7 linked regions of the Homo sapiens genome follow. The protein of the gene in region 1 purifies or fractionates together with the protein of each later gene. This does not show direct contact. Each region holds a gene or a part of one and is shown in the gene's direction. Other genes may lie near its edges.

The links.
Region 2: the proteins of SLC28A1 (region 1) and TMED5 purify together in Homo sapiens (affinity purification with mass spectrometry; one large-scale study listed by BioGRID and IntAct). This does not show direct contact.
Region 3: the proteins of SLC28A1 (region 1) and ZFC3H1 purify together in Homo sapiens (affinity purification with mass spectrometry; one large-scale study listed by BioGRID and IntAct). This does not show direct contact.
Region 4: the proteins of SLC28A1 (region 1) and POLR3E purify together in Homo sapiens (affinity purification with mass spectrometry; one large-scale study listed by BioGRID and IntAct). This does not show direct contact.
Region 5: the proteins of SLC28A1 (region 1) and CHAF1B purify together in Homo sapiens (affinity purification with mass spectrometry; one large-scale study listed by BioGRID and IntAct). This does not show direct contact.
Region 6: the proteins of SLC28A1 (region 1) and ATRN purify together in Homo sapiens (affinity purification with mass spectrometry; one large-scale study listed by BioGRID and IntAct). This does not show direct contact.
Region 7: the proteins of SLC28A1 (region 1) and DPY19L3 purify together in Homo sapiens (affinity purification with mass spectrometry; one large-scale study listed by BioGRID and IntAct). This does not show direct contact.

Annotation. Positions count from the first base shown.
Region 1 is NC_000015.10:84,887,228-84,891,495, forward strand, and holds part of SLC28A1 (sodium/nucleoside cotransporter 1), read left to right. Parts: intron 1-158; exon of another isoform or gene 159-359; intron 360-517; coding exon of another isoform or gene 518-533; coding exon 534-629; intron 630-1,544; coding exon 1,545-1,633; intron 1,634-3,215; coding exon 3,216-3,307; intron 3,308-4,268. UniProt on the Homo sapiens protein: Sodium and pyrimidine nucleoside symporter of the plasma membrane that imports uridine, thymidine and cytidine into cells by coupling their transport to the transmembrane sodium electrochemical gradient.
Region 2 is NC_000001.11:93,170,186-93,174,453, reverse strand, and holds part of TMED5 (transmembrane emp24 domain-containing protein 5 isoform 1 precursor), read left to right. Parts: intron 1-4,268. UniProt on the Homo sapiens protein: Potential role in vesicular protein trafficking, mainly in the early secretory pathway. Required for the maintenance of the Golgi apparatus; involved in protein exchange between Golgi stacks during assembly.
Region 3 is NC_000012.12:71,653,416-71,657,683, reverse strand, and holds part of ZFC3H1 (zinc finger C3H1 domain-containing protein), read left to right. Parts: intron 1-382; coding exon 383-799; intron 800-4,268. UniProt on the Homo sapiens protein: Subunit of the trimeric poly(A) tail exosome targeting (PAXT) complex, a complex that directs a subset of long and polyadenylated poly(A) RNAs for exosomal degradation. The RNA exosome is fundamental for the degradation of RNA in eukaryotic nuclei.
Region 4 is NC_000016.10:22,313,808-22,318,075, forward strand, and holds part of POLR3E (DNA-directed RNA polymerase III subunit RPC5), read left to right. Parts: intron 1-271; coding exon 272-321; intron 322-1,281; coding exon 1,282-1,401; intron 1,402-2,793; coding exon 2,794-2,879; intron 2,880-3,187; coding exon 3,188-3,232; intron 3,233-3,307; coding exon 3,308-3,399; intron 3,400-4,268. UniProt on the Homo sapiens protein: DNA-dependent RNA polymerase catalyzes the transcription of DNA into RNA using the four ribonucleoside triphosphates as substrates.
Region 5 is NC_000021.9:36,387,873-36,392,140, forward strand, and holds part of CHAF1B (chromatin assembly factor 1 subunit B), read left to right. Parts: intron 1-3,678; coding exon 3,679-3,796; intron 3,797-4,268. UniProt on the Homo sapiens protein: Acts as a component of the histone chaperone complex chromatin assembly factor 1 (CAF-1), which assembles histone octamers onto DNA during replication and repair.
Region 6 is NC_000020.11:3,575,197-3,579,464, forward strand, and holds part of ATRN (attractin isoform 1 preproprotein), read left to right. Parts: intron 1-630; coding exon 631-752; intron 753-1,662; coding exon 1,663-1,801; intron 1,802-3,385; coding exon 3,386-3,576; intron 3,577-4,268. UniProt on the Homo sapiens protein: Involved in the initial immune cell clustering during inflammatory response and may regulate chemotactic activity of chemokines. May play a role in melanocortin signaling pathways that regulate energy homeostasis and hair color.
Region 7 is NC_000019.10:32,460,692-32,464,959, forward strand, and holds part of DPY19L3 (protein C-mannosyl-transferase DPY19L3), read left to right. Parts: intron 1-2,674; coding exon 2,675-2,797; intron 2,798-3,177; coding exon 3,178-3,289; intron 3,290-4,036; coding exon 4,037-4,093; intron 4,094-4,268. UniProt on the Homo sapiens protein: C-mannosyltransferase that mediates C-mannosylation of tryptophan residues on target proteins.

The DNA of each region.
Region 1 (4,268 bases):
GGGAGTGATGAAAGCTAGGTCCTCTCTTCAGAAAAATGCCTGTATCAGATACATATGCAGGCTGTATATAATTCTTTACTTTCCTTCCCTATGAAGTGGGCAGAATTTGCTGTTTCTGCCTGGAACTCCCAGAGTTCACAAGGACTTGCCTCTTACAGGTTCAGATGTGGGTGCAGGCTGGGGTGGTGGCGCACGCCTGTAATCCCAACACTTTGGGAGGCTGAGGTGGGAGGACTGCTTGAGCCCAGGAGTTGGAGGCCAGCCTGTGCAACACAGGGAGACCCAGTCTCTAGAAAAAGGAAGAGGTACCTCCTCCATGTGCTGAGAAGTCAAGGTTGCAGTCCCAGTCACAAGGAGGGGTGAGCTCTGGGATGGCATAGGTGGCCCCCAGGCAGGGCTCTGGCTGTGCCAGGCATCTGCTCCCCCCACTCAGTCCTCTCCCCTTTCCCCGGGCCCCTAAACTGGGCCCTGCCCGGCCTCCCTTTCAGCGTTGGGCGCTCCCTGATTTGTCTTTCAGCTGGAAGGTCTGGGACATGGAGAACGACCCCTCGAGACGAAGAGAGTCCATCTCTCTCACACCTGTGGCCAAGGGTCTGGAGAACATGGGGGCTGATTTCTTGGAAAGCCTGGTCTGTACCCTTCCCCATCAGTCATCCTGACCCCTCAGCCTCTTTGGCTTGAGCCCGGCTGCCGAGGTGATGAGGCTTTTGCTCACCACCTTCCCTCATACCCCATTCTTCTGCCCCCTTCTCACCTCTTTGCTGGCACAGTTATGAACCTCCCAGTGTGTTGGCCTCCTCAACACAAGGCAGACCCCTTTATTTCACTCATTAAACATTGACTGAGCACGTACTGTGTGCACTATAGTCTGAAAGTCCTAGTCTGAAAGGGCAGGGCAGGCCCCAGTGAGGAAGTGACATTAGAGCTGTGACCTACAGAATGAGAATCAAAACCAGATGATGGGGGAGGGGGGTCTCTAAGGAAATCTCAGCCTTCAAGGAGCCTTGTCCTTGCTTTCAAGTGGCCAGGTCAGGTCGAGGCACACCACCCAGAACTCGGAGCCTGGTAGGATACCCTGCACGCTCCCAGGCTCCTCTGACAAAGCCCCCTCCCCTTCACTGCCCTTGTCTCTTGGGGTGCTCCTTTCACGCTGTCATATGCAAGAATACCCACCCCCCACCCAAAACAGCTCCACAGACGGTGGGTGCATGGTGCCCTGAGGTCATGTGATGAGGTAGCCCTGCCTGGGGCCTCCCTTACAGGCCTCCCCTCGGCCCCTCTCAGTCACAGCTGGGCCGCAGGTGTCTGTCCCTGCGCAGACCATGAGCTCGCTGAGGGCAAGATGTGTCTGGCAGAGCCCTGCACACAGTAGGTGCTCAGTGCCTGCCTTGCAGAATCCAGTTTAGTAGCCTTCTAATTCCTCCCTGTGCCCCAGCCCAGTCCCCTCCTCAGCCAGGGTCTCACCGTGGCCCCCGACCCCCAGCTGTAAGTTCCTGGGGGTGGGTAAGGGGCAGGCCGACCTGACGGCTCCCTGCGGGCTGTAGGAGGAAGGCCAGCTCCCTAGGAGTGACTTGAGCCCCGCAGAGATCAGGAGCAGCTGGAGCGAGGCGGCGCCGAAGCCCTTCTCCAGATGGTAGGTGATCTCTGGAGAGACAAGGGCGGGCCTGGGGTGGAGGCTGCTTGGGAACAGGATGGGGAGCCGGGCCTCCTGGCGGATGGGAGTTGGGGGGACGTGAACCTTTGTTGAAGGGAGGAATAAAGGCGCTTTAGCCAACACGCACAGGCACATGAGCCTCGAGGGTGAGCCAAGTCACAGGCTCCCCACCTGCTTTTGAACAGCTGAAACGAAATCCCATCAGGAACCCCAGTATGTACCGTGGGGCCTGCCCTGAACCAGCCAGGCCTCCCTCTCAACCTCCCCCTTCTGCCTTCTACCCCCATTCAGTCTCTGGGGTACCTCGGGGAGTCTGAAGACTCCGGTTAAAAATCCTGAACTGGGCAAGGTCCCTGATTTTACACAGGGAGGTAGAAGCCCAGAGAGGGGAAGGGACCAGCCAGGATGGCATAGGCAGCGAGTGTCTGAGGTGAGCATAGAACTCCACCTCCTGATGCCTGGGCCATCTGGGTCCTTGTTGGCCAGATCCGGAGCTGAGGACACCGTGATGGGCAGGGGGTGGTGGTGGGGGAGGGATTCCGTCTCTCTGCCTGGGCAGGGGATATGGGAAGAATGCCTCCTCCACCCTCTCAGGAGGAGGTGGGAGGTGGGGACTGAGAGGAGGTGAGGCTCCTTAAAATGGCAGCTGGTGGGTGGATTCCAATTAGCATTGAGTGGGCGTCTACTCAATGTGTGTCCCATGGGCAGGTGGATGAACGACAGGGGAGGGGAGGCAGCCATCCATGTTTTTCTTTTCTTTTCTTTTCCTTTTTCTTTTCTTTCCTTCCTTCCTTCTTTCCTTCCTTCCTTCTTTCCTTCCTTCCTTCTTTCCTTCCTTCCTTCCTTCCTTCCTTCCTTCCTTCCTTCCTTCCTTCCTTCCTTCCTTTTCTTTCTCTCTTCCTTCCTTCTTTCTTTTCTTTTTTCTTTCTTTCTCTTTCTTTCTTGCTTGCTTGCTTTCTCTTCCTTCCTTCCTTTCTCTCTTTTTTTTTTTTTAGGCAGGTCTCACTCTGTTGCCTGGGCTGGAGTGCAGTGGCACGAACCCTTCCTGGGCTCAAGAGATTCTCCTGCCTCAGCTTCTTGAGCAGCTGGGATTACAGGCGCACGCCACCATGCCTGGCTAATTTTTGTGTTTTTGGTAGAGAAGGGGTTTGTCATGTTGCCCAGGCTAGTCTTGAACTCCTGGGCTCAAGTGATCCACGCTCCTGGGCCTCCCAAAGTGCTGGGATTACTGGTGTGAGCCACCGCGCCCCCCCACCGGCCACATTTCTGTATGTTGATGAGGTTCTGCCTTTTCAGTGAACTTCCTCCTGAGCCCTGGAGGCAGGGACTATCACTGGGGTAGTGGGGCCTGTGGGTGCTGCCACAGAGGCAGGAAGGCCTGAACCATTTCTACATTTGCCCTGGGCTGGGGTTGCCCTGCAGCCCTGTGGGGATGTCAAGGCAAGCCCTGGCTTGCCCCTGTTGCCACTTTACTGGGGACATACCTGAGTGGAGGTGCTGAGGATCTCCCCCAGATGGGGTCTGCTCATGCACTCATGGACCCTGCTGGTCTTGTTCCCAGGAGGAACCTGCAGCCAGCCCTGAGAGCCAGAAGCTTCTGCAGGGAGCACATGCAGCTGTTTCGATGGATCGGCACAGGCCTGCTCTGCACTGGTGAGCCTGGGGCCCAGCACTACCCAGGACACAATGACTCCTGCCTCAGCTATCCATGTCTCAGGGCAGGGTCATTCACTCACCCAGTCATTCAACAAATGGTTGTTGAGCACCAACTCAGGTCCAGCTCCCTTGCTGGGTACTGAGGCATCTGTTAAGCCAGGCCAGATCTTGTTCCCAAGGCACTCCCTCATCAGTAAGGGAGGCGGAAGAAATAGTCCCACATAATGCAGCATGTCATCTGGGAACACCAAGGAGGAATGGGGGATGATCAGGGAGGACTTCCAGGAGGAGGTGACATTGGAGTCTCACAGGCTAAGTAGGAGTTAGCCAGGTGGAGGTGATAGATACTAAGGAGGGCAAAGGCACTCCACACAGAGGAGTCACAGGAGCAAAGGTGAAAACTGGCAGGGTGTGGGTTTCGATAAAGTTCGACGTCTGCACTGTAAGGTCTGGAGGGTAAAGTTCTAGACAAGGAGTGTCAGGGGATGGGGCTGGAGAGATAGGAAAGGGCCCAGGATGGGGAGTGGGTAGGGATATGGGAGGATGCTCAAGGACTTGGATTTTACCCTCAAGGCCAGAGAGAGCCACTGAAGGTTTTGAACAGGGAAGCGTCAAGGTGGAATTCACACGGTGGGACCCTGGAAGGAGGGCAGGAAAGAGGGGGAGATGGAGACATTGAGGACTGCAATGCCTGTGTGAGAATGAAGCTGTGGAAGGTGGGCGGGGGCAATGGGAGAGGTCCTTGGGAAGCAATGCTAGCTGTACTTGGCAATGACTGGGTGTGCAGCATGAAGGAAACCCTGAATTAGGGCTGCCCCAGGGGCCTGCTCGGGTGATAGGAGGATGATGGTGTCTTCCACAGAGCTAGAGAACATGCGTGCAGAGGGAGTCTTGGCAGGAAGGGGGATAATTAGGATAGTTTGTTGGAGGTACCACTGCCAGGCCATCTGAGGGAGAG
Region 2 (4,268 bases), on another chromosome or scaffold:
TAGGCTGAATTTGAATTTGGGCACAAGTGATACTCCCACTTCAACCAGCCTCCTGGGTAGCTGGGACTACAGGCACATGCCACCACACCTGTCTCCTTTATGAATTTTTTTACTTCCAATTATAAAAGTAATATACAACCTCCTTAGAGTAAGTCAAACAATACAAAGATGTAAAAGCAAAAAAAGCTGGGTGCGGTGGCTCACACCTGTAATCCCAGCATTTTGGGAGGCCAAAGTGGGTGGATCACGAGGTCAGGAGTTGGAGACCAGCCTGACCAACATGGTGAAACACCATCTCTTAAAAAAAAAGAAAAAACAAAAAACAAAAATTAGCTGGGCGCAGTGGTGCGCGCCTGTAGTCCCAGCTACTCGGGAGGCTGAGGCAGGAGAATCACTTGAACCCGGAAAGCAGAGATTGCAGTGAGCCGAGATCGTGCTGCTGCACTCCAGCCTGGGTGACAGAGTGAGACTCCATCTCAAAAAAAAAACAAAAAAAAACCTCTTTGTAACTCTATTGAATGCCTGTTGTCATTCTCCTAGATGTGAACTCTTCCACACCTTTTCCCATACTCATAAAAACATATAGGGTTTGATGGGGTGAAACACATATGATTATTTAATTAAAATGTCATGGTCTTTAAGTCCTTACAAAGTTTTTACCAATAGGTAAACAAACCAAATCAGTTTTTAATAAGGAAGTCTATTGGTTCATATAACTGGAAGTCTGAATAGGACTGATTTCAGGCTTAATTTGTTTTCCTCTGGTTCTTACGGCTCTGCTCTCTTGACTTTTCTTAAAGAATTGAATTACTTAAAGAATTCTTCACTGACAGATATTTTTCCTAAATGCATCAAAACTAGTATTTTATTGTCTTCTGACTTCGATTATAGCTGTTGAAGCTTCCTGTCAGTTTGTTATATATTTGTAGTTCATCTCTATTTTCTCTTGTAGCTTTTTAAATTTTCTGCTTCTGCATTTTCACTGCAGTTTAAGTGGATCATCCAAGCTTCTTAATCTCTCATAATTTCTCTCTTTGTCTCACTCTCCTATTTTATGGATAATTTCTTCAGCTCTATCTTCTACATCATTAGCTTTAAAAATTTATTATCAGTATTATTTTTGATTGGCAAATTATAATTGTATACATTTATGCGGTATAGCGTGATGTTTTGATACATATATACAACATGTAATGATTAAATCAGGCTAATTAACATTGCCTTGCCTATAATTTTTTATGATGAGCTATTTGAAATTCAGTCTCAGTTATTTTGAAATATACATTATTATTGACCATAGTCACCTTCCTGTGCAATAGATCTCAAAACCTATTCCTTCTGTCTATCAGAAACTTTGTACTCTGTGATCAACAGCTCCCTATTCCCTCTCTCCCCAAGTCCCCCACCCCCAGCTTCTGGTAACCATCGTTCTACTCTCCACTTTTAGGAATGGAACTGTATGGAATTCTAGGAATTCCACATATGAGATAATGCAGTATTTGTCTTTCTGTCCCTGGCTTATTTCACTTAGTGTAATGTCCTCCAGTATTCCATTGTGTATCTATACCACATTTTCTTTATTCATTCATTAATGGACACTTAGGTTGTTTCTATGTCTTGACTATTGTGAATAATGCTTCAATGAATATGGGAGTGCAGATATCTCTTTTACATACTGATTTCAGTTCCTTTGGATGTATACCAGAAGTGAGATTACTAGATGATATGGTAGTTGTATTTGTGGTTTTTTGAGGAACCACCATATTGTTTTCCATAGGGCTGTACTAATTTACATTCCCACCAACAATGTACTAATTTGTTTTTTCTTTTTTGAGATGAGGTCTTGCTGTGTAACTCCGCTGGTCTCAAACTCCTGGGCTCAGGATCCTCCCATCTCAGCCTCCTGAGTAGCTGGGATTACTGGGATTATAGATCTTGTACATATTTTGGTAGATTTGTACCTAATTCTTTTTTTCTTTTTTTTTCTTTTAGTGCTAACGTAAATGGTATTGTATTTTTTATTCCCAACTCCAGTTGCTTGTTGCTGGTGTATAGGAAAGCAGTTGACTATTGTATGTTAATATTGTATACTGAGACTTGGCTATCATCACTTATTAGTTCCGGGACGGGTTTTTTTTTGGCAGTTCTTTAGGATTTCTACATGGACTATCACAAGGACAGTTTTATTTCTTCTTTTCCAATAGGTATGTCTTTTCTTTCCCTTTCTTGTTGTATTACATTAGCTCGAGCTTCCAGTATAGTGCTGAGTAGGAGTAATGAGGGAGTAGCATCTTTGTCTTGTTTCTGATTTTAGTGAGAAAGCTTCTAGTTTCTCGCCATTAAGTGTGATCTTAGCTGTAGGATTTTTGTAAATGTTCTTAAGTTGAGGAAGTTCCCCTCTATTCCTAGTTTGCTAAGATTTTTTTAATATTAAATATCATGGATTGATATTGGATTTTATCAAATATGTTTTCCATACCCATTGCTGTGATCATCTGAGTTTTCTTCCTTAGCCTGTTGATGTGATGAATTACACAAAATAATTCATGAATGTTGAGCCAGGCTTATATACTTGGAACAAATCCATCTGGTCATGGTTGTAATTCTTTGTTTACATTGTCGAATCAGCTTTGCTAATATTTTGTTGAAGATTTTTGCATCTGTGTTCCTAAGAGATACTGGTATGTAGTTTCCATTTCTTGTAATGTCTTTTCTGGTTTTAGAATTAGGGTAATGTTGGCCTCACAGAATGAGTAAAGAATTGTTCCCTCAGCCTTTATTGTCTGTAAGAGATTTTAGAGAATTGGTTTCATTTTGTCCATAAATGTTTGGTAGGATTCACCATTGAAACTGTCTGGTCCTGGTCCTTTCTTTTGGGGGAGGTTATTAATTATCAGTATAATTTCTGTAACAGATACAGGCCTATTCAGGTTATCTATTTCTTGTATGAGTTTTGGTACTTTATATCTTTCAAGGAATTGGCCTGTTTCATCTAAGTTTTCAAATTTGTGGGTATAGATTTATTAATAATGTTCCACTGTGTCCGGAATTGGCGGGTTCTTGGTCTCACTGACTTCAAGAATGAAGCCGCGGACCCTCGCGGTGAGTGTTACAGTTCTTAAAGGCAGCGTGTCCGGAGTTTGTTCCTTCTGATGTTCGGATGTGTTCGGAGTTTCTTCCTTCTGGTGGGTTTGTGGTCTCGCTGGCTCAGGAGTGAAGCTGCAGACCTTTGCAGTGAGAGTTACAGCTCTTAAGGTGGCGTGTCTGGAGTTGTTCGTTCCTCCTGGTGGGTTTGTGGTCTCGCTGGCTTCAGGAGTGAAGCTGCAGACCTTCGTGGTGAGTGTTACAGCTCATAAAGGCAGTGTGAACCCAAAGAGTGAGCAGCAGCAAGATTTATTGCAAAGAGCAAGAGAACAAAGCTTCCACAGTGTACAAGGGGACCCCAGCAGGTTGCCACTGCTGGCTGAGGCAGCCTGCTTTAATTCTCTTATCTGGCCCCACCCACATTTCGCTGATTGGTCCATTTTACAGAGAGCTGATTGGTCTGTTTTACAGAGAGCTGATTGGTCTGTTTTGACAGGGTGCTGATTGATGTGTTTACAATCCCTGAGCTAGACAACAAAAGTTTTCCACTAGATTAGCTAGATACAGAGAGTGTGGATTGGTGTATTTACAAACCCTGAGCTAGACACAGAGTGCTGATTGGTGTATTTAAAATCCCTTAGCTAGACATAAAGATTCTCCAAGTCCCCACCAGACTCAGGACCCCAGCTGGCTTCACCCAGTGGATCCCGCACCTGGGCCGCAGGTGGAGCTGCCTGCCAGTCCCATGCCGTGCGCCTGCACTCCTCAGCCCTTGGGCGGTTGATGGGACTGGGTGCCGTGGAGCAGGGAGTGGCGCTCTTCGGGGAGGCTTGGGCCGCGCAGGAGCCCACAGTGGGGGGCTGAGGGGAGGCTCAGGCATGGCGGGCTGCAGGTCCCAAGCCCTGCCCCGCGGGGAGGCAGCTAAGGTCCTGCGAGAAATCGAGCACAGCAGCTGCTGGCCCAGGTGCTAAGCTTCTCACTGCCCAGGGCTTGCAGGCCGGCCGGCCGCTCCCAGTGCGGGGCCGCGGAGCCCACGCCCACCCGGAACTCGAGCTGGCCCGCAAGCATCACGCGCAGCCCCAGTTCCCACCCGCGCCTCTCCCTCCACACCTCCCGGCAAGCTGAGGGAGCCGGCTGCGGCCTTGGCCAGCCCAGAAAGGGGCTCCCACAGTGCAGCGGCGGGC
Region 3 (4,268 bases), on another chromosome or scaffold:
TCTGTGACAAAGCATTCAGTTTCTCCCCTCTTCCTTCAGAAAATAATCTCTAACATACAGCTAATTATGGACTTTCCTGGCACAGAAGGAATGATGCTATAACCTAACTAGGTGGACTGTCTGTGGATACTACTGGTAATTATGACACTAGTGATTTTGTAAGTGGACTGTTTATATGGTACTTACTAAATTCAAATATGGGCACGTAATGAAAGTGGGCATTAGCTGCACATACATTAAATGGAATTTAGTAATTTAAAAATATCGATTCATTTTTCTTGAAAAATTAAAAAGGGAGAAAATTCATCTATAATCTAAGTTTTTTTGTTAAATTTAACTGTGGAAAATTTTTGGAAACTGGTTTCCTTAATATGCTGTTCAGCCAAAAGTTTTGGAAGGTCTCCATCAAGAAAACAAAATTATTCATCAAAAAATGAAAACTGTGTGGAAGAAACTTTTGAAGATTTGCTTTTAAAGTATAAACAAATACAGTTGGAACTAGAATGCATCAATAAGGATGAAAAACTAGCATTGAGTAGCAAAGAAGAGAATGTGCAGGAAGATCCTAAAACATTGAACTTCGAGGACCAAACTAGCACTGATAATGTCAGTATTACAAAGGATTCAAGTAAAGAAGTAGCTCCTGAGGAGAAAACACAAGTCAAAACTTTTCAGGCATTTGAATTAAAACCACTCAGGCAAAAATTGACTTTACCAGGAGATAAGAACCGTTTGAAAAAAGTTAAAGATGGAGCAAAACCACTTTCCCTGAAATCCGACACTACTGATTCTAGTCAAGGTAATGGAATTAAATATTTCAGTTAGTAATGACTCTTCTTCCTCTAAAGTAGTAACTACTTGTTTTGGCAGTGTACTTCATTGAAATGATTGTAATTATCTGTAAATTCTTTTGTACTTTCTATGTAGACATTCATATCATTGAATAATTACTAATTTTGTTTACTTTTAGTCTTTATTTATTTATTTATTTTTTGCCTGACATTCTGGCCTCTATAATAGAATGTTATACATAAGTGATAATAGTGGACACCTTTGTTTCCTAATTTAAAGAAAATGGTTTTGACATTTACCATTAAATATGATGTTAATTTTTTTGTAGGTATCCCTTATCGGGTAAAGGAGGGTTTTACTCCTATTCCTGGTTTGAAATTTTCAGCGTGAATGGATGTTGAAGTTTACAAAATCTGTTTTCTTCATTATTGGGATGAGCATCTAATTTATTTTAATTTGTTAGTGTAATGAATTATATAATTTATTTCTAGTATTAAACCACCCTTGTATGCTTGCGTTTAATACAGTTTATGATATACCATTTTTAAATCATGGATTTGGCTTGTTTTTTCTTTTCCTCTTTATTAAGATATAATTTATATACAGTAAAATTTATCTTTTAACATTATAAATGAATAAGTGTGTAGTTCTTCAGGTTTTGACAAATGTAGACAGTGGGTAACCATCACCAGCTACCATTAAGATACAGAATTCTTTCATCAACCTCAAACAGTTTCTCCAAGTGTCTTTGTAGTTATCCCGTCCCTCAGCCCTTAGTTCACCTGGTAACCACTGATCTGTCCCTATAGTTTTGCCTTTTCCAGAATGTCACACTAATGGAATCATACAGTATATTGCCTTTCATTATAGCTTCTTTCATTGAGCATAATGTGTTTGAAATTCATTCATGTAATTGTATATGTCAGTAGTTCTGTGTATCCCATCATACTGTAGTTCATCCATTTCCCAATTATGTTTGGGTTTTTCCAACTTTCGGCTATTACAAATGAAGGTTTGCTAGTGTTTTGTTTAGAATTTTTTATGTGTTCAGAGCCTGTAATTTCCCCCCCCTCTTTTTCCTTGACAGTTTTTAGTGTAAGGTTATAATACTCAAATTAGTTGGGGCTGTTTTCATCTTTATTCTCTGTAATAGTTTAAGATTGGAAACATTCTGAGATACTTGGTAGATCTTGCTGATAAAAGTGTCTGGGCCTGGGTGGAGTTTTTTTCTGAGAAAGTTTTAATCTAACTTCGTGTTTTCTATTTCTGTTAAGACAGTTTATGTAAACTCTATATTTTTTGTAATGTGTCTATTTCCTGTAAGTTACAGAAGTTATAAAAATTGTTCTTAAGAATCCTTTACTTTTTTATCTGTAGTATTTATAAGTTGTACCTTTTTTTTCCCTGCTCTCTTCTTTAATTTACCCTGAAATAAGTACATAAGTTTTTAAACTCAGTTTTCAGCCTCTCTCCTATTAAGATCATTTTAGGCCATAAAGTTTGACTTTAGTTCTGTCTCAAGTTGGGTTATTTAACTTTTTTCATTCATTCTGAATATTTTCTAATTTTTATTTTTCATTGACTTGTAGGCTGCTTGGAAGTATGTTTCTTCTAAACATGTAGGTTGTCTAGCAGTATTTTTTATTGATATCTAAGTCAATCATACTGTCAGAAAATAAGATTGCTATGATAACCAATCTTTTGAAATACTTGGAGACTTCCTTTATTGTCCAGTATGTAATCAGTTTTTTGTAAGAGTTCTGTGTATGTTTGAAATGAATTTATAGATTACTTGAGCTTTTTGTGTTGTTCACTTTTTTTATTTTTTGATATGCTTGATCAGTTACTAAGAGGAGTTTGTTAAAATTTGCCAGTATGATGATGGATTTGTGATTTTTACTTTTTGCTTTAAATACTTTGAAGGTGGGTAATTGAGTCATTATGTAGTGACTTTATCTCTGATGTTTTTGCCTAAAAGACTATTTTGTCTTATATTAATAGCCACATCATCTTTCTCTTTATATAATTTCCCACTCTTTCAGTCTTTCTGTATCCTCATGTCTCGGATATTACTTGTACATAGTATAGAGCTGGTTTTAATTTATAATTCAGTATGACAATCTTTGTCCTTTAGCTTGAACGTATAGTCTACTCACATTTTTTATGATTATTGACATTTGGTTTTATTTCTTCTTCTTTTTTTTCTTTTTAGGCTCTTATTTTTCTTCACACAATTTTTTTTCATTTGCTAGTTTGGAAGTTGGATACTAAATTTCTGGTCTTATATTCCTACCAGTGTTTAAAGTTAATCAGGAACCTTACTCTTTCCCCGAAATACAAAGAATGATATTTGCTTAGCTTTGCCTATATATTTAGCACTTTCTTGGCTCACTCTTTGTATCATGTCTGGAATTATATATGTATAAATATATTCTCTGTGTGTGTGTGTTTTAGATAAGATCTCACTGTGTTGCCCAGGCTAGAGTGCAGGAGTATGATCATGACTCAGTGCAGCCTTGACCTCCTGGGCTCAGGTGATCCTCCCACCTCAGCCTTCTGAGTTGCTGGGACCACAGGCATGTACTACCATGCCCGGCTATGTTTTAAAAATTTCTGTAGAGACGGGGTCTCAGTATGTTGTCTAGGCTGGTCTCAAACTCCTGGGCTCAAATGATCCTCTTGCCTTAGCCTCCTAAAATGCTGGGATTACAGGTGTGAGCCACCATGCTCTGTGCTTAAATACATTCTTTAGACTTTTTTTTTAAAAATGTGTTTTTGCTGGGTGGAAAACGATTTCCGTTTACTCTTTTTAAAAGATATTTTCCCTGGGTTTAGAATTCTAGGTTGTTTAATTATATGCTTTTTGTTTGTTTGTTTTTGAGACAAAGTCTTTCCCTGTCATCCAGGCTGGAGTGCAGTGGCACTATCTTGGCTCATTGCAACCTCCGCCTCCTGGGTTCAAGTGATTCTCATGCCTCAGCTTCCTGAGTAGCTGGGACTATGGTACATGCCATTGCGCCCGGCTAATTTTTGTATTTAGTGGAGCTGGGGTTTCGCCATGTTGGCCAGTCTGGTCTCAAACTCCTGGCCTGAAGTGATCCGCCTGCCTTGGCCTCCCAAAGTGCTGGGATTACAGGCATGAGCCACCACACCCAGCCCCTAATTATATTCTTACTGACAATATTTTCTGGCTTCCATTGTTGATTTTCAAAACTCATCTATCAGTCTTAATGGTTTCCAATTTGAAGATAATCTTTTTTCTTTGGTTGTTTTAAAGATCCTTTTTGTCTTTGATATTCTGTAGTTGAACTGTGTGATGTGCTGATTGTAGATTTCTTTTTATGTATCCAGCTTGGAATTTGTTGTTTCTTGAATCTGGATTGGATCTTGCAGTGGTTCTGAAAAAATGATCATTATCTCTTAGAATATTATCCCATTCTCTCTCTTTTTTGGAACTCTGTATAGATGTATGTTAT
Region 4 (4,268 bases), on another chromosome or scaffold:
TGATAGGATGTTTAGCAGGATCCCTGGCCTCTACCTACTAGATGCCAGAAGCACCCACCCCACAGTCGTGACAATCAAAAAGGTCACATTGCCCAGTATCCCCAGGGTAAAGGGGCAAAACTGTCCCCGATTGAGAACCACTGGCTTAGGCAGCTCCCTCTGCGAGGAGAACTCCCAGCACCCCGGCCTGAGGCTTCCCTGGCGGGTGGGGTTGAGAGAAGGGAGGTGGAGGCTCCCCAGGACTGCAGTCAGTGGCTTGTCTCTCTTGCAGCAGGGGACTCTTCACAGGATGAGGCGGAAGACGATGTTAAGCAGATCACGGTGAGCCCTGGCCCCTGGAGGAGGAGGGTGCTGCCTGGGCGGCAGCAGGACCAGAGACCAAGGGGTAGCGGGTCTTCACAGAATGCAGGTGGAGCAGACAGGGCCCATGCTTTTGAGCCTTCTTGCTGGGCTACCTGGAGGGAACAACCTGAGTTGTTCCAGCTATACACAAGATGGAAGCCCTGGCTGGATCCAGGAGATGTGTGCCTGGGGCTTGGCTAGAGTCACCTGGGAGCAGGAAGCTGGGGCCAGGAGCCCTGAGGACCCGCAGACCAGCTCTGCCATGAACCTGTATCTTAACAGAGCCAAAGTCAATTAACTGTGATTCTATCCTCTTTATGGGGCACGGATGAATAGTTTTCGTTTTAATAGTTATTCCTGAATTTTAAAGATTTTTCAAAGAATCTTAACCTTCCATTTATGGTTTGTAAAGTTTTCCCTATTTAAGCATATTTAGATTAAAATGAGTAGTACCAAAAGAAAAATGCTACACGTAGAATGATGATACACAAGTATGGCTAGAGAGTGGTGAGTGTTTGGAAGCCCTTGAGGACCGGGGAACACGGGCGTAATGGACATGGAGGTGGCGCAGGGAGCTCATCCTGTTCTCTCCGTAGCTTATTAGGACCTTAGAAACTCCCTTCCGCTCTGGGGAACTTAGAAAAGGCATCCTGGGCCTGTCTGCTTTAAGGACTCTGCTGGCTCTGGCGCCTGGGACTCTAATCCCCCTCAAGCCTCTGGGCTGGGCAGGCACGAGCAAGTATAAGCCGTTCCCTGGCGTGTGCAGGCAGCTCTGGGAGGGACACGGTTGGAACGGAATTTAAACGACCTGTGCTAGGAAAGGAAGGGAGAGTGGAAAACCCCTATACGGAGTTCTCTGGTCTTCTGGCAGGGGCTGAGACGGCAGTCCAGCAAGGGTCACAGGCCTGACGGTATGACCTCTTCCCCTTCCCACCGCAGGTGCGGTTCTCCCGGCCGGAGTCAGAGCAGGCCCGCCAGCGCCGTGTGCAGTCCTATGAGTTCCTGCAGAAGAAGCACGCAGAGGAGCCCTGGGTCCACCTGCATTACTATGGCCTGAGGGTGAGCGGGGCTTCGTGGGGTCCTGGGGGAAACACCTCGGTGCCCGGAAGGGTCATGGTGTGGCCTCCGTGTCTCACCTTGAACTTAAGTCAAATTCATGAGTCATAGCCACAGATAGAGGATCGAGTCCTGTGGGCAGTTTACACTTCACTCCAGCCGAGCCACTTAGCGTGGGCCCCAGGAGAGCAAGAGGAAAAGATGCGAGTCCTTGGTTCCCTGGGTGGGGTTTGGCCCCTGGGCATGGGCATCTTGCTGGGCTTGCAGTGGGGCTAGTGCCTGGTAACATATTTTCGCTGCAGCCCAGGCCCTAAACGCAGGCCAGATGCATTCTCCGGTTCTGTCCTAGAGGGTCGGTCATGTGTTGCCACCCCAGAGTTCCCAGCACCACCTGCCCAGGGGATTTTCTTACTGTGCTTGGTTTTCATCTGGTACGCTGACTTTATTTACTTTTATTTTTATTTATTTATTATTTATTTATTTATTGAGACAGTCTCATTCTGTCACCCAGGCTGGAGTGCAGTGGCTCGATCTCAGCTCACTGCAACCTCCGCCTCCCGGGTTCAAGTGATTCTTCTGCCTCAACCTCCCAGGTAGCTGGGACTACAGGCACCTGCTAATTTTTTTGTTTTTGTTTTTTTAGTAGAGATGGGGTTTTGCCATGTTGGCCAGGCTGGTCTCGAACTCCTGATTTCCAAGTGATCTGCCCACCTCAGGCTCCCTAAGTGCTGGGATTACAGGCGTGAGCCACGACCACCTGGCCCTGGTGCATTGATTTTAGAACCTAACCCTTGAAACTGTGTACTGAGTGAGGGATGCTTCCAAAGACACCATGGGCCAGGGCTCCCAATATTTTCTGGGGTGGGGAACAACTCCTGATTTCTCTGGAACCTTCTTGGAAGAGATTTGTGTTAACAGACCCTTAGACTCGGGGTCAAACTTCTAGACACTGCTGTTTCCTGCTGTGTGACCTTGGGCATGTTAGCTAACCTCTCTGAGCCTCAGTTTTCTTAATTATAAAATGAGAGTAGTAATAATAGTACCTACCTTGCCAAGTTATTTTGAGGGTGAGATGGGTTAGTATATTTACAGTCAGTGGAACAGAGTCCACCACATCCTAGATGCCCAGTGAATGTTAGCCATCATTTTGTCATTGCTGGTGGTGTACCTGTGTTACAGACAAGGCATCGAGGCTTGGGGGCTGGGGCTGGGCAGGTCATAAGGCCAGGAAGATGAGTGGCTGAGGCCACGTCAGAGGCCTTGGGTGCCGTGCTCAGGAGGTTGGATGTGGTCCTGTGGCTGGCCATGGAGTGGAAGACGGGAGGCCTTGGGGGAGGGGGCCCAGGCCAGGGCCATCAGCTGAGGCTCCTCTCACACCCTGCCCTCCTCCAACAGGACAGTCGCTCTGAGCATGAGCGTCAGTACCTGCTGTGCCCCGGCTCAAGCGGGGTGGAGAACACGGAGCTCGTCAAGTCACCCAGGTGGGATGGGCTGGGCCAGCATGCAAACTGGATGCCTGCCCAGGGTCCCCAGGGGTCCTTGGTGTGGATCCTCCCAGAGGACTGTGGCCCCTCCTGTAGCATGAGGGTGGAGCCCATTGTCCCCTGGAGAAGGCCAGGAGGGTGGGCCTGGAAAGAGATGGTCCACTTTTCTGCAGGGGCTCAGGGCTGCTGGGGGAGGGCGGGGGTGGGCTGTCTGCACCCTCTCCCCAGACCCTCACTTGGGTGGCTGGTGAGGAGGGTCCAGCCTGGATCAGCCCTGAGCCTCTGCCCCTGCCATGTCCCTGCAGTGAGTACCTGATGATGCTGATGCCACCCAGCCAGGAGGAGGAGAAGTGAGTAGAGGCGGCAGGACACCCTCTCCCTTTCCGGGCTGGCTGCCTCTAACCCGTCCCCTCTGCTTTTCCCAGAGACAAGCCTGTGGCCCCCAGCAACGTCCTGTCGATGGCCCAGCTGCGCACGCTGCCCCTGGCCGATCAGATCAAGATCCTGATGAAGAATGGTGGGTGCCTACCCCCTGCCCACCCGGGGGCCCCAGTCCCAGTGGCTCCTGAGGAATGGACTCTGTGGGACAGTGAGGACCAGGGGACAAGGCCAGAGGCCCCTGCTGCCCACAGCCTGCCCAGCTTTGCAGCTGCATCCTTGTCTGGAAAGATAACGCAGGACGGCAGTGCGGCCAGCTCCCGCAGGCAGCCCGGGTTCCCGTGAATGTAGGACAGTAGTGTGTCTGGCCCCCACAGGCGGGCTCGGGTTCCTGTGCCATGCTCACCACTTGTCTGCCATGCTCTTGGGCAGGTCATGAACCTTTCTGAGGCTTTGTTTGTTTTTCTGTGAAAAGAGACTAATGATAGTTCCTGGGGGCCAATGTGAGGAATCAGAGAGAGGAGGCTTCTAAAGTACAGGGCCTTGCAGGCGAACACGGACTAGGGGCTTTTTGTTGTTGTTGTTGTTGTTGTTGTTGTTTTTTTTTTTAAGGTTTTTTTAAAGGTTTTAAAGGTTTTTTTTAAAGGTTTTGCTGTGTAACTCCTGGGCCCAAGTGATCCTCCTGCCTCAGCCTTCCGAGTGGCTGGGCCTACAAGCAGACGCCATTCACTGCACCGGCTCAACTAGGGTCATTTTCATGACAATGTCTTCACTGGCATTGCTTCTGGGTACTCTTGCCAGACCTGGCACCATAAGGACTGGTCTCCTTTTCTCAGAGGACTCTGAGTGCCAGAACCTTTAGGGTACCCGTGGCTGGTGAACAACAGACCTGATCCTTGAGTTCAGAATGGAGCCGCAGAACCTGGGCTCGTCCTTTGAGATGCCACCATGAGCTCTTAGGAGTCTAAGGAGAGAGGGGAGCTCCATGATATGCTCGGGATTTTAGGC
Region 5 (4,268 bases), on another chromosome or scaffold:
CAGTGGTGCAAACTCGACTCACTGCAACCTCCGCCTCCTGGGTTCAAGCGATTCTCCTGCCTCAGCCTCCTGAGTAGCTGGGATTACAGGCGCCTGCCACCACGCCCGGCTAGTTTTTTTGTGTGTTTTTAGTAGAGACAGGGTTTCATCATGTTGGTCAGGCTGATCTCGAACTCCTGACCTCAGGTGATCCACCTGCCTCGGCCTCCCAAAGTGTTGGGATTACAGGCGTGAGCCACTGCGCCCGGCCTGGATATGCTTTTTAGTTCAGGTGTGGCTGACCCTCTCAATCTGTCATTTAGGTAGTTCAGTAAAATACTGTTCTAGGGAATGTGGTAGAGTCAGGGAGGGAGGACAGCAAGATGAAACCAGGAACACCTGTTTGAAAACAGCTGCTTTCCCGCAAGCTCCCACCAGGCTGTTCTAAGACGAGATGGAAAGGCACTTACCATTCTGTCACATCCCAAGCAAGGCGACTGTTCTGGTTTTGTTGGATTGTTAGTTTAACATCTGTGGTGATCAGAGTCAGTTCTGTGTCTCTGTGTAATTAATTAAATGGCTTTAGGACTGTGTTAGTAATTAATTGGCTTTGGGAGTTTTTTTTTTTTTTTTTTTTGAGACAGTCTCACTGTTATCTAGGCTGGAGTGCAGTGGCACAATCTTGGCTCACTGCAACCTCTGCCTCCCAGGTTCAAGCGATTCTCCTGCCTCAGCCTCACAAGTAGCTGGGATTACAGGCGCCTGCCACCACCCCCGGCTAATTTTTGTATTTTTAGTAGAGATGGGGTTTCGCCTTGTCAGCCAGGCTGGTCTCAAACTCCTGAGCTCAGGCAATCTGCCTGCCTCGGCCTCCCAAAGTGCTAGGATTACAGGCGTGAGCCACCGCGCCCGGGCTATTTGGGCATGAATTCTAAACTGGGATATGAAAGAATTCAGCAATGGCAAAGTTCCTCATGGAGGTGTGCCATGCTCAGAAGTGCAGTGTGCCCTCCCACTGGCCCCTCTTCAGTGGGCCCTGAGTAGCTGCTCGTGTTTGATCTCCCTGTAAGAAAGGCAGTAGCTGAAAAGCACCTAAGCTGCCAACACTGTGGAAACCCCCGCAATGCTCCCTTTCTTCACAGTGACATACTTGTTGTAATACCCATAGTAGCCTCTGAAACGCTCCAGCAGTGCCGGTCGGGGTAAGATCCCGCGTCGGTACCCAGCTTGGCAGCTCCTCTGGTTTGACATCTGTGTGTTTTCTCCCATTCCCTGCTGTGACTGATGCTGCTTTGGAGTCCTGGTGTCTGCAGTGCCGGGCTGCTGGAGGGTGCTGGGGAGGGAGCATACCGGGAGTGTCATTAATGAATGGCCTTGTGATTTGTGCTTGCTTGTTTGGTGGGAATAGATTGATTCTTGTTTTCTGCCTGTGCTTAAATGGGATAAAACTATATGGAAAAAGTAAACCAGGCTGGGCGCGGTCGCTCACACATGTTGTAATCCCAGCACTTTGGGAGACCGAGGCAGGTGGATCATTTGGGGTCAGGAGTTTGAGATCAGCCTGGCCAATATAGTGAGACCTCATCTCTACTAAAAATACAAAAATTAGCTGGGCATGGTGGTGCGCTCCTATAATCCTAGCTACTCAGGAGGCTGAGGTGGAGAATCGCTGTAACCTGGGAGGTGGAAGTTGCACTGAGCCAAGATTGGGCCATTGCACTCCAGCCTGGGCAACAGAGTGAGAGTCTGTCTCAAAAAAAAAAAAAAAAAGTAAACCTTTTTACCATACTTTAAAACAATCTAGAAACTATTACAAAATAAAACAGAAATCTAAAGTTTTTTTTTGCAGGAGGAGGAAAAGAGACCTGGTTGAGTTCAGTGCCATGATACCCAGAGTGCATGAAGGGATGTGTGTGTGTGTGTGTGTGTGTGTGTGTGTGTGTGTGTGTGCGCGCGCACGCTGATTTGTAGAGGGAAAAGTGGGGAGCAGGAGCGCCACCTGGGGGTGGCTACCTGCTGTCTGCCCTGAGGTTGCACATGGCAGCCCCCATTTTCCAAAGTCCCTTGGTCTTGGAGGCCCAGAAACCTGCTGTTGTCAGCACGTGGAGAGTGTTCATCCATCAGGGCCAATGGCATGTTAACCAAGCTCCCAGACTAATGTGTGCGAATAGGATTCCGGTTAACTTAGCATGGGAATGCAGGCTGGGTGCGGTGGCTCACGCCTGTAATCCCAGCACTTTGGGAGGCTGAGGTGGGCAGATCACCTGAGGTCAGGGGTTCGAGACCAGCCTGACCAACATGGAGAAACCTCGTCTCTACTAAAAATACAAAATTAGCTGGGTGTGGTGGTGCATACCTGTAGTCCCAGCTATTCGGGAGGCTGAGGCAGGAGAATCGCCTGAACCCGGGAGGCGAAGGTTGTGGTGAGCCAAGATTGCACCATTGCACTCCAGCCTGGGCAATAAGAGTGAAACACCATCTCAAAAAAAAAAAAAAAAAAGAAAGAAAAACAAAGAATGGGAATGCGTATGTCCTCACAACCTCATTCATTCACTGTCCTGCTGTGCACATTCCTAAAAGGGAAGCTAAGGGATGGTCAGAAGGTTACGTGGTAATCGTAGAGTCAGAATGTGGGGAGTTATTGGACTTAGACAATGGGTGACCTCAGGCTAAAGTACCTGATATCTATAATGGTATTAATAGCTGACACTTACATGGGGCTTACTATCTGCCAGCCATTGTGTTGTAAGTGTGTTATATACATTGGCCAATTTAATCCTCACAACAGCCTGTGAGGTAGATATATTGTTATCCTCATTTTTGAGACAGGGTCTTGCTCTGTCACTGAGGCTAGAGTGCAGTGGCAAGATCAGGACTCACTGCAGCCTCCACCTCCCGGGCTCAAGTGATCCTCCCACCTCAGCCTCCTGCGTAGTGGGACCAGAGGTGTGTGCCACCACACCTGGCTAATTTTTTTGATTTTTAGTAGAGACAAGGTCTTGCTCTCTTGCCCAGGCTGGTCTTGAGCTCCTGGGCTAAAACAACCCTTCCATCTCAGCCTCCCAAAGTGCTGGCATTACAGGCGTGAGCCACCCCACCCTGCCTATTATCCCCATTTACAGGTGAGGAAACTGAGACATCAAGATGCTAAGTGACTTGCTGAAGGTTTCTGAGCTAGGAACATTTGCCAACCCTTGCACTGAGGGTTCTTTGCTGTTTTGTTTTTCTATTCAGCTATTTATAGGTTATGCCTTCAGATTTATTAATGTAGCCAGTCATTTTGCAGTGGCATTTGCTGGCCTAGGGACCCTTCTGTTTAAGGTGATTTTGTATAGCTCTGATCTGTTATGAATTTGATTTTGGAGTTTTAGCTCAGAAGGCAATTTGCCTACTTTCCCTGTTGAAATGCTTGGAAGTAAATCATCCTGGCCATAGTGTCCACTGAACAACATAAATGTTGTTTTAATACCCTAAAAATCCTGACATGCAGCTAATTTTTTTGTATTTTTAGTAGAGACAGTTAGCCAGGATGGTCCTGGGAGGCAGAGGTTGCAGTGAGCCAAGATTGCGCCACTGCACTCCAGCCTGGGCGACAGGGTGAGACTCCGTCTCAAAAAAAAAAAAAAAAATGAAAATAAAAATCCTAATATGAAGGAGTGTGGGTGAAGCGTGGATCACTGTTACTGAATCACCCTGCAGATGCTGTCATCCTATTGTGGAAGGTGAATGATAACAAGGAGCCGGAGCAGATCGCTTTTCAGGATGAGGACGAGGCCCAGCTGAACAAGGAGAACTGGACGGTTGTGAAGACTCTGCGGTAACTTGGGAGGGACCATGGCAGTGATCTCTGTTTACGATGAGTGCATTAAATGGAATATACCTTTTGACTTTTTTTTTCTTTTCTTTTGAGATAGGGTCTCATTGTCGCCCAGGCTGGAGTGCTGTACTGTGATCACAGTACCCTGCAGCCTTGACTTCCCGGGCTCAAGTGATCCTCTCACCTCCCAAATAGCTGGGACTACAGGTGCATGCTACCATGCCCTGCTGATTTTTAAATTTTTTTTTTTTTTTTTTTTTTTTTTTTTTAGTATTTATTGATCATTCTTGGGTGTTTCTCGGAGAGGGGGATTTGGCAGGGTCATAGGACAATAGTGGAGGGAAGGTCAGCAGATAAACAAGTGAACAAGGGTCTCTGGTTTTCCTAGGCAGAGGACCCAGTGGCCTTCCGCAGTGTTTGTGTCCCTGGGTACTTGAGATTAGGGAGTGGTGATGACTCTGAAGGAGCATGC
Region 6 (4,268 bases), on another chromosome or scaffold:
TGTGATCCGCCCGCCTCGGCCTCCCGAAGTGCTGAGATTACAGGCATGAGCCACCGCATCCGGCCATGCAGCTTCTCTTTTCTAGAGTTAACAGGAGATGCGGCAGGTCTGTAGTAGCCCAGAAATTCTCAGACTTGCACTCTTGAATTTACACGCATGTACAAAATGCAGCTCAGCCTAATGCCTCCTGTTCAGTTCTGTGGTGCTGCCTACTTCCTGTGCCCAAATTAGCCTTGCGTTTATAACTAGGAGGAATGACTTGGTGTCCTACAATATTTTGGCTCCTGGGCTTCTTTGGTGTTCATTCTATTACTAGTTGATTTTTTTTTTCTTGGAAAGAAAAGTATTCAAAGAGCCAGAATTTACTTTCATTATATCTTACAGTTGTTAAATTAACCTATCCTTGTTTTCACTTTCTGTGTACTTCTTTCTTTGGGGTACAAAACAGTGTTTCTTTAGATTGTCTATTTCTAAATATTATTTTAACCAGAACATACCAAATATATTTTCCTGCCAGTTTCATTCTTCATTTTACTTCTTAACCATTGTTACGATTTTTTTTTTAACTTCGGTCTCAGATTTTGCTCAATTGAAGTTGTCCCAGTTCATGAGATTTTGTTTTCTTTGCAGCTCTTGACCATGACAGATGTGACCAGCACACAGATTGTTACAGCTGCACAGCCAACACCAATGACTGCCACTGGTGCAATGACCATTGTGTCCCCAGGAACCACAGCTGCTCAGAAGGCCAGGTCAGAGGCTGTTTCTTAAAGATTTCAGAAAAATCCCAATTTGTCATAGGTTTAGCTTTTATAGTGTATATGGTATAAATAATGGCCCAGAGTTACTTTTCAAATGGGTTTCTATTTGGATTTTATTATCCCTGAGGTTTTCCTTTAGGAAGAGATGTTCTGTATATTTCAAGGGTCCTACTAGCCCTGGGAATTTGTGTATTGTGTTTTAGAAGAAGGTAGGACTGTTGTCCCTGGGCATGGCTGTGACTAAGCACTGGATCCTTGGTTTGAGGCATCTGATAGTGACCTCACTTTACCAGTGCCAGGTTTTGATAAAGTTAGGGTTTGAGAGTGAGTCAGGTGTACAGCGGCCCATATTGAACTGTGGAAATGACAGACTTTGCAAAATCTCCTTGTTTTATATCTTGGTTTGGCATAATCTCACTGCTCATCATATATAGATTTTTAAATTTAAGTTATAAGATGACCCAGGCTTTTATAGTTTTTGACAGCTTACAAGACTTTTTTTTTTGTCAGTCTCATACAGTTCATAAAATAGAAAACTTTCAGACTTTTGAAGTGAGCATTTGAAAAGCACCAAGTTCAACATTCCCATTTTACAGATGAGCAGGTTGAGGCATGGTGTTTAAAAGAGTGGGCTGCTTCCTTGCCAGTTAAAAGCATGTCCTTGAGCAGAACATTCCATTGCAGTGTTCCCCACTGCAGAGCTACTGCAACTTATCTATCTATCTGTCTGTCTGTCTGTCTATCTATCTATCTATCTATCTATCTATCTATCTATCTGTCTATCTATTTATTTGCAGTTTGCTTCCTCAATTAGATTTTGTTGTCTATAATATCCTGTTGGTCCTCACCATAAGTTCTCTCTGTGGATACAAAAGAAAAGCTTTTGTCCACTGTGTTCTAGATCTCCATTTTTAGGTATGAGAATTGCCCCAAGGATAACCCCATGTACTACTGTAACAAGAAGACCAGCTGCAGGAGCTGTGCCCTGGACCAGAACTGCCAGTGGGAGCCCCGGAATCAGGAGTGCATTGCCCTGCCCGGTAGGCCTTGCAGGGTCATCTTGGTGTGTGTGGGTCCATTACTTCAGCCTGCTTCCCCCAACACTGTGCAGCCTAAGTTGAACCTAGCAGAGGGGAAGAGCTAATTCTGTCCATTCATCCCCCACACGAGTATTATGGGCTTTTTTGTTTTTAACTAAAATACAGTTCTTAAGTATTTGTTCCTACTGTCCTTTGAAATAAAGTGAAACATCCTTTGCTGCTCTGTAGAATTGAGTGACAGCTTGGTTCTGTATCACTGAGCCTGCTCCTTGTCTCTTTCCCATCCACCTTTGATAACCTGGGACTAGACCATGATGTCTCAGCAGTCAGTCTGCTGAGCACTTTATGGAGAGTACTTCTTATTAACCACTGGGATTTAATTGTTGGCACCTGCTAATGGGCCTTCTCTGAGAAGGAGAGGATAGATACTTCTGTCAGCAGCACCTTTTAGGGGTGATCTCCAGCCCTGAAAACCTCAATATATCCTGCTTCTGAGGTTCAGGATGATGAACTCAGGGCCTGAGACCAGCCAGCCATGTGATATATTTGGACCAGGGTGGTCCAGAAAGGGGAACTTCCTTGTCTGTGCACAACATCTGAGCTTGTTCAGGGAAGTTGGTTTGGACCAGGCCCTTTTTGAATGTCCCTTGGAAGTTTTTGATTCAGCTTGCAGAGTGGGACTCTTTTCTATATCTCAGTGTGTCTCAAATTTTAAGGTACAGGAAAAGACCTGGGAATCTTGCGAAAGGCATATTCTGGTGCAAGTGTGGGGTGGGGCCTAGAGTGTGCATTTTATCTAGTCGACTGCTACACTGTGAGGAGCAAGTCTTTGTCTGTTCTTAAATGATCTCTTTCCCATGGTACCTTTCTTTTATCTCAGTGACTGTTACTGTTAATGAACATTGTTGATGTCTCCAAAGTACTTTGGTTCTGGTGAAGTTGCTTTGTTCTTTCATTGTCTTCCAGGAAGCATTCATAGCTTCTGTGCAGTACCTTGTGTGGGTTCAGGATGATCACAGGTAGCAGATTACAAGCTTGTCTTGTATGCTATAGCCATATCACTTGGGTTGTTTCTCAAGAAGGACCTTCTCACCTTGCTTTTGGGATGCTTTGTACACTTGATTGTACCTTCCACCTGATGATATGAAAACAGTGCAGCTTTTGGAGACTATAGATTTGTTAATTCCTTGATTCATTTCCATTCTTGCAGTTTTTACCCCAGCCCTCCAATATGCATATTCATTTGTCTGCTCTTCACTTAGGATTTTAGTTTTCTAATTGTTCTTCAGAAGGAAGTGTACCAGTCTAATATTGGCACCAAACTGGTGTTTTCATCTAAGACATAGGATAAGTGACCTCAGAATATGCTTTTTAGGATCCGGGAGATATCACCAGTAAACATTTTAAAATTCTTGTATTCTGCATTTGGTCCTTAATAATGTGTCAGAGGCTCCCACATCCTAATGAAGTACCTAGAATTTAAATTAGAAAGGCCATTTCGGTATTCAGTAATTTGAACTCATAATACAGTAGTTTTGTCTGATTTCTAAAATTCTTTTCTTTCTCTTTTCCCCTTAATGAAAGAAAATATCTGTGGCATTGGCTGGCATTTGGTTGGAAACTCATGTTTGAAAATTACTACTGCCAAGGAGAATTATGACAATGCTAAATTGTTCTGTAGGAACCACAATGCCCTTTTGGCTTCTCTTACAACCCAGAAGAAGGTAGAATTTGTCCTTAAGCAGCTGCGAATAATGCAGTCATCTCAGAGCATGGTGAGTTAAAATCCTCAAAACTTAAGTTTCTGGTTATCCACCTTTCTACCAAGGGCATGACTGCAGCTTGCATGTGGAAGGCTGTGGATATGTGTGACGTGCTTGGCAAGAAGGGGAGTGCTGGTGAACGCAGCCTGAGGGACTGTGGGTTTGTGCTGTCAGAGTCTCTTCCTCTTAAAATTTTTAATACTTTGTATATATAAGATCTATGAATAATTATATGGGGGATGAATTGTAACATGTATATGTGTACATAATCTGGTGACATCAGTAGATTATTTCATACCTGTTTTACCTCTGGATTCTGCTAGGGGAGAAAGAGAGGTCACTGATAATTAGCTAGGTTGGATTAAGCCACCTGAGTTCCTTGGAGTTAAGGTATTATAATAGTGCATAAGACTGTATAATTACCACTAAGAAGTGTACATCTCAGCTGGATGTGGTGGCTCACACCTGTAATCCCAGCACTTTGGGAGGCTGAGGTGGGTGGATCGCCTGAGGTCAGGAGTTCAAGACCAGCCTGACCAATATAGTAAAACCCCGTCTCTACTAAAAATACAAAAATTAGCCAGGCATGGTGGTGTGCGCCTGTAATCCCAGCTACTCAGGAGGCCGAGGCAGGAGAATTGCTTGAACCCAGGAGGTGGAGGTGGCAGTGAGCTGAGATTGCGCCACCGCACTCCAGCCTGGGT
Region 7 (4,268 bases), on another chromosome or scaffold:
CCACTGTGGTATGTGCGATCTGTTGTTGGCCAAAATGTTATGTGGCACGTGACTGTCTAAATGTGAATTAACTTTTAAATAAGGGCCTTTTGTCAGTGCCAAGTATTTAAAGTATTTCTACCTTTTTAGTACTAGGAAGGATGATACTATGACTTGTTTTGTTTTGTTTTGTTTTGTTTTGTTTTGTTTTGTTTTGAAATGCATCTCGCTCTTGCCTGGGCTGGAGTGCAGTGGTGCAATCTCGGCTCACTGCAACCTCTGCCTTCCGGGTTCAGGCAATTCTCCTGCCTCAGCCTCCTAAGTAGCTGGGATTACAGGCATGCACAACCACCCCTAGCTAATTTTTGTATTTTTAGTAGAAACAGGGTTTCACCATGTTGGCCAGGCTGGTGTTGAACTCCTGACCTCAAGTGATCTGCCTGCCTCAGCCTCCCAAAATGTTGGGATGACAGGCATGAGCCACTGCACCCTGCCAGATACTATGACTTTTATGTAGACATCTGCATTAGTGTGAGGGGTACATCTGAAAGGGGCATGGTGTTCCCTGCCTCAGCCTCCCAAAGTGTTGGGATGACAGGCATGAGCCACTGCACCCTGCCAGATACTATGACTTTTATGTAGACATCTGCATTAGTGTGAGGGGTACATCTGAAAGGGGCATGGTGTTCTGTGTTCATGGAATTAATCAGAGCCTTCCAGCTTGGCTGGGCTATGGGGGAGGTACTGCAGACTTCTCTTAGGTATCTAGAGAGGATAAGAGCAGATACTCCCCTTGTCTGTTTTATTTTTATTTACTTTTCACACCTTGCCCTGTTGATGGATATTCTTATTTGGAGTATCCTTTTTGTACCAATATGGAAACCAGTGTTTGGGTTGTAATATTTACTTTTAAGTAAAGATTCCAATTGTGAATTACCAATGGTGAGAACTGCCTTAGAGTATCCTTTTAATTTTCGTATGTATTTATGGTAGGAAAAAAAGGATTTCTGGGAAATAAAAAAAGTCTCTAGTTACATAGAGAAGCATCGTATGTGCCCAGTTCTATTGGGTATGTATGAAGGGATCAGTAGACCTTCATGAAAGTTTCATCTTTAACTAGTAGCCTTTACTGTTGTTTTCTTTTCCCCTCGACAACAAATTGTGCAACATCTAAAGTCACTGATCAGTCTTAACATCACTGAAGTGGAGACAGCCAGGCAGTGTGTGCTTCCCGGTGTAATGTGATGTGGAATAGAGCCGTCCTGTTTTCTGTGGAAATATGTTTCAAGTCCCTCAGTGGATGCCTGAAACCTCGGATGGTTTCACACCCTTTCTATACTATGTTTTTTTCCTATACATATATCCCTGTGATAAAGTTTAATTTATAAATTAATCATGGTAAGAGAATAACAATAATAATAAAATACAACAATTATAGCAACATGCCAGCATCACTTCTCTTGCACTTTGGGGCCTTAGTTATGTAAGATAAGGGCTGTTTGAACACAAACAATACAGGGACATTTAAATGTATCTTACTTTATTAGTAGTTTAGTAGCTGAATGTATCTGCTTGTCTGTCTCGGGTAGGTGGGTAGACTATACAGCGTGGAAACACAGGACCAAGGGATGATGATCTGAGTCTCAGGTGGGACAGACAGGGATGGAGAGATTTCATCATGCAACACAGAATAGCATGTAATTCAAAACTATGAATGGTTTATTTCTGGAATTTTCAATTTAATATTTTCGGACAGCAGTTTCCTCAATAACAAACCACTGAAAGTGAATCCACCGATAAGAGGGGACTACTGTGCATCATAACCCCGTGAAGTGTTCTTGCCAAAAAAATGAACTTGTGTCTGATAAACCTCTAGATCTAATTACAAGTTTACAAGAAGCATGAAACGTATAACCACCACTGTGAGCCACACCTGGGAGACGGGAACAGCTTCAGGACATATGTTCTCTATTCTTCCACAAACAAATGGCCTGTTTTTTAAAAAAAGGAGATACTTTTATAGATCAAAAGATATTTAAAGATATATATTAGTGAAATGCAACATGCAGTTCTTAGATCCTGATTCAGAGAAACCTGAAAAAAGCAATTGATGCAAACAGGGAAAATAGAACATGAACTAGGTATTAGATGATGTTAAGGAATTATTGTTACTTTTATTGGGTGTAATAATTTTAATGTAGCCGTATTTGGTAAAAGTCATCTTTTGGATATCAGGAGGTATTGGTAGGTTAAAAATGTGATTTTTGAGGGGTCATAAAGGAACTGAATTCCAAGTTAATGGATGTGTGTTTTGCTTTTGCTTATTTGTAAAAATTTGAAAAATACTCATAATAACTGGTAAAACATCTTTTAAAAATCTCTTTCAATTTCAGCAATTCCAAAAAATTTGAGTTTTTTTTTTTGCATTCTCTTTTAATTTAAAGAATTGAAGCACTTTAAATTTTTACTTCAAAGCTGCTGTGAAATTTCAGTTTTTCTCATTATTAATGCATTTATATTGTTACACTTTAGCCTCATAAATTCAAAATTGATCAATGCGAATTCATTTCATCTTATGGAAATAATCAATTTCTGAATACATAAAGGCATACATTTCTTGTATCTTCTTCTTTTACAAAGATCTAACTAAAATTATGTTTCCAGCTTAAATTTTGTATGTTGCTGTTTTACTCAGTGATTCTACAAATCAACAATCCGTGGGTAAAATGGAAAAAGGCACAGTTGACCTGAAACCAGAAACTGCCTACAACTTAATACATACCATTCTGTTTGGATTCTTGGCATTGAGTACAATGAGGTATTTTTGTCTTACCTGTTTGTTTACTTTTTATTTGATCACTCTTGATGTTACTTAGCAATATAATTTGGAAAGTGACAATCATCTTCATTAATGATCATGGTTCCCATAAAATCATCCTTATATCCTATCTTCTCTCAGTATAAAATACTCAACATCAGTTTTTACAATTAATTACAAACACGCCTCTATGTTTTACTCAAAGCATAGTCTTGAAAAGGCAGTGGAGTTAAACAACGAACCCTTCGGCAAATGGCATCTGCATAGTTTTAAGTAAGATTTTGCCGTCATAGACTGTAAAGCTGCCTTTATAGGTGTCTCAGAATCCAGGTTTATATACAACTAGTACTTCTGACTTGCGCCTGTGTCTGTTCTTGCAGAATGAAGTACCTCTGGACGTCACACATGTGTGTGTTCGCATCATTCGGCCTATGTAGCCCTGAAATATGGGAGTTACTTCTGAAGTCAGTCCATCTTTATAACCCAAAGAGGGTCAGTGTCATCCCTTTTTCCATCTCCTTTTATGACTTGCAGTATTTCTTTCATACCACTTCTTTTTTTGTTTTTCAGTAGCTGTGAGATAAAATGGATACTGAAATTGAAGCTGAAAATACATAATTGATATATTAAGATTTTATAGGGAATTATTTTAAAATAATTTTATTTTAAAAAATTACTTTTTTCTCAGACTATAAGTTAGATATGTTCATTATACAGAATTTGGAAATACAAAAAAAAGCACAAAAGGGGAATTAAAATTACCAATAATCCCCTTGTCCGGAATTATAACTGTTGTTATTATAATGTATTTTCATAAAGATAATTATTTATATATGTATGACAATTTTTCAGTAGCCTATAAATGCAGTTTTGAATTGTTCTACTCCATAAATTCACTAGGTGGCAATATAGTAGAAGCTGCAGATATCTTACAAATGATTAGAATCCTAGTATCGACTCAGTTATTCTGCATATTGGAGACTTGTGCTCCATTAAATTATATTTCTGGTAATTTTTTAAGGCATATATTTACAAAGCAAAACTGTAAGGCAGAAGTGTTTAAAAAAGCCGGGCACAGTGGCTCACTCCTATAATCCTAGCTGCTCAGGAGGCTGAGACAGGAAAATCACTTGAGCCCAAGAATTCCAGGCCAGCCTAGGCAAACATAGCAAGACCCTGTCTCTCAAAAAAGAAAAGGTTCAAAATACTTATAATCTAAATAATGTCTTTCTTATATAGATATGTATAATGCGATATTCAGTACCGATATTAATACTGCTGTATCTATGCTATAAGGTAAGACTGATTTTCCTCATTCTTGTCATTCATGTATTTAGCAGAATAATTGCTTTGATTCAATATATTTTGTGTATTATTTGGCAAATAGAGTGGTTTGTGAAGGTTATAAATACCTCCTTAGCTTCTTACTGAAGGTGACATTGATGGGAAAATGGATCTTTTTCCCAAATAG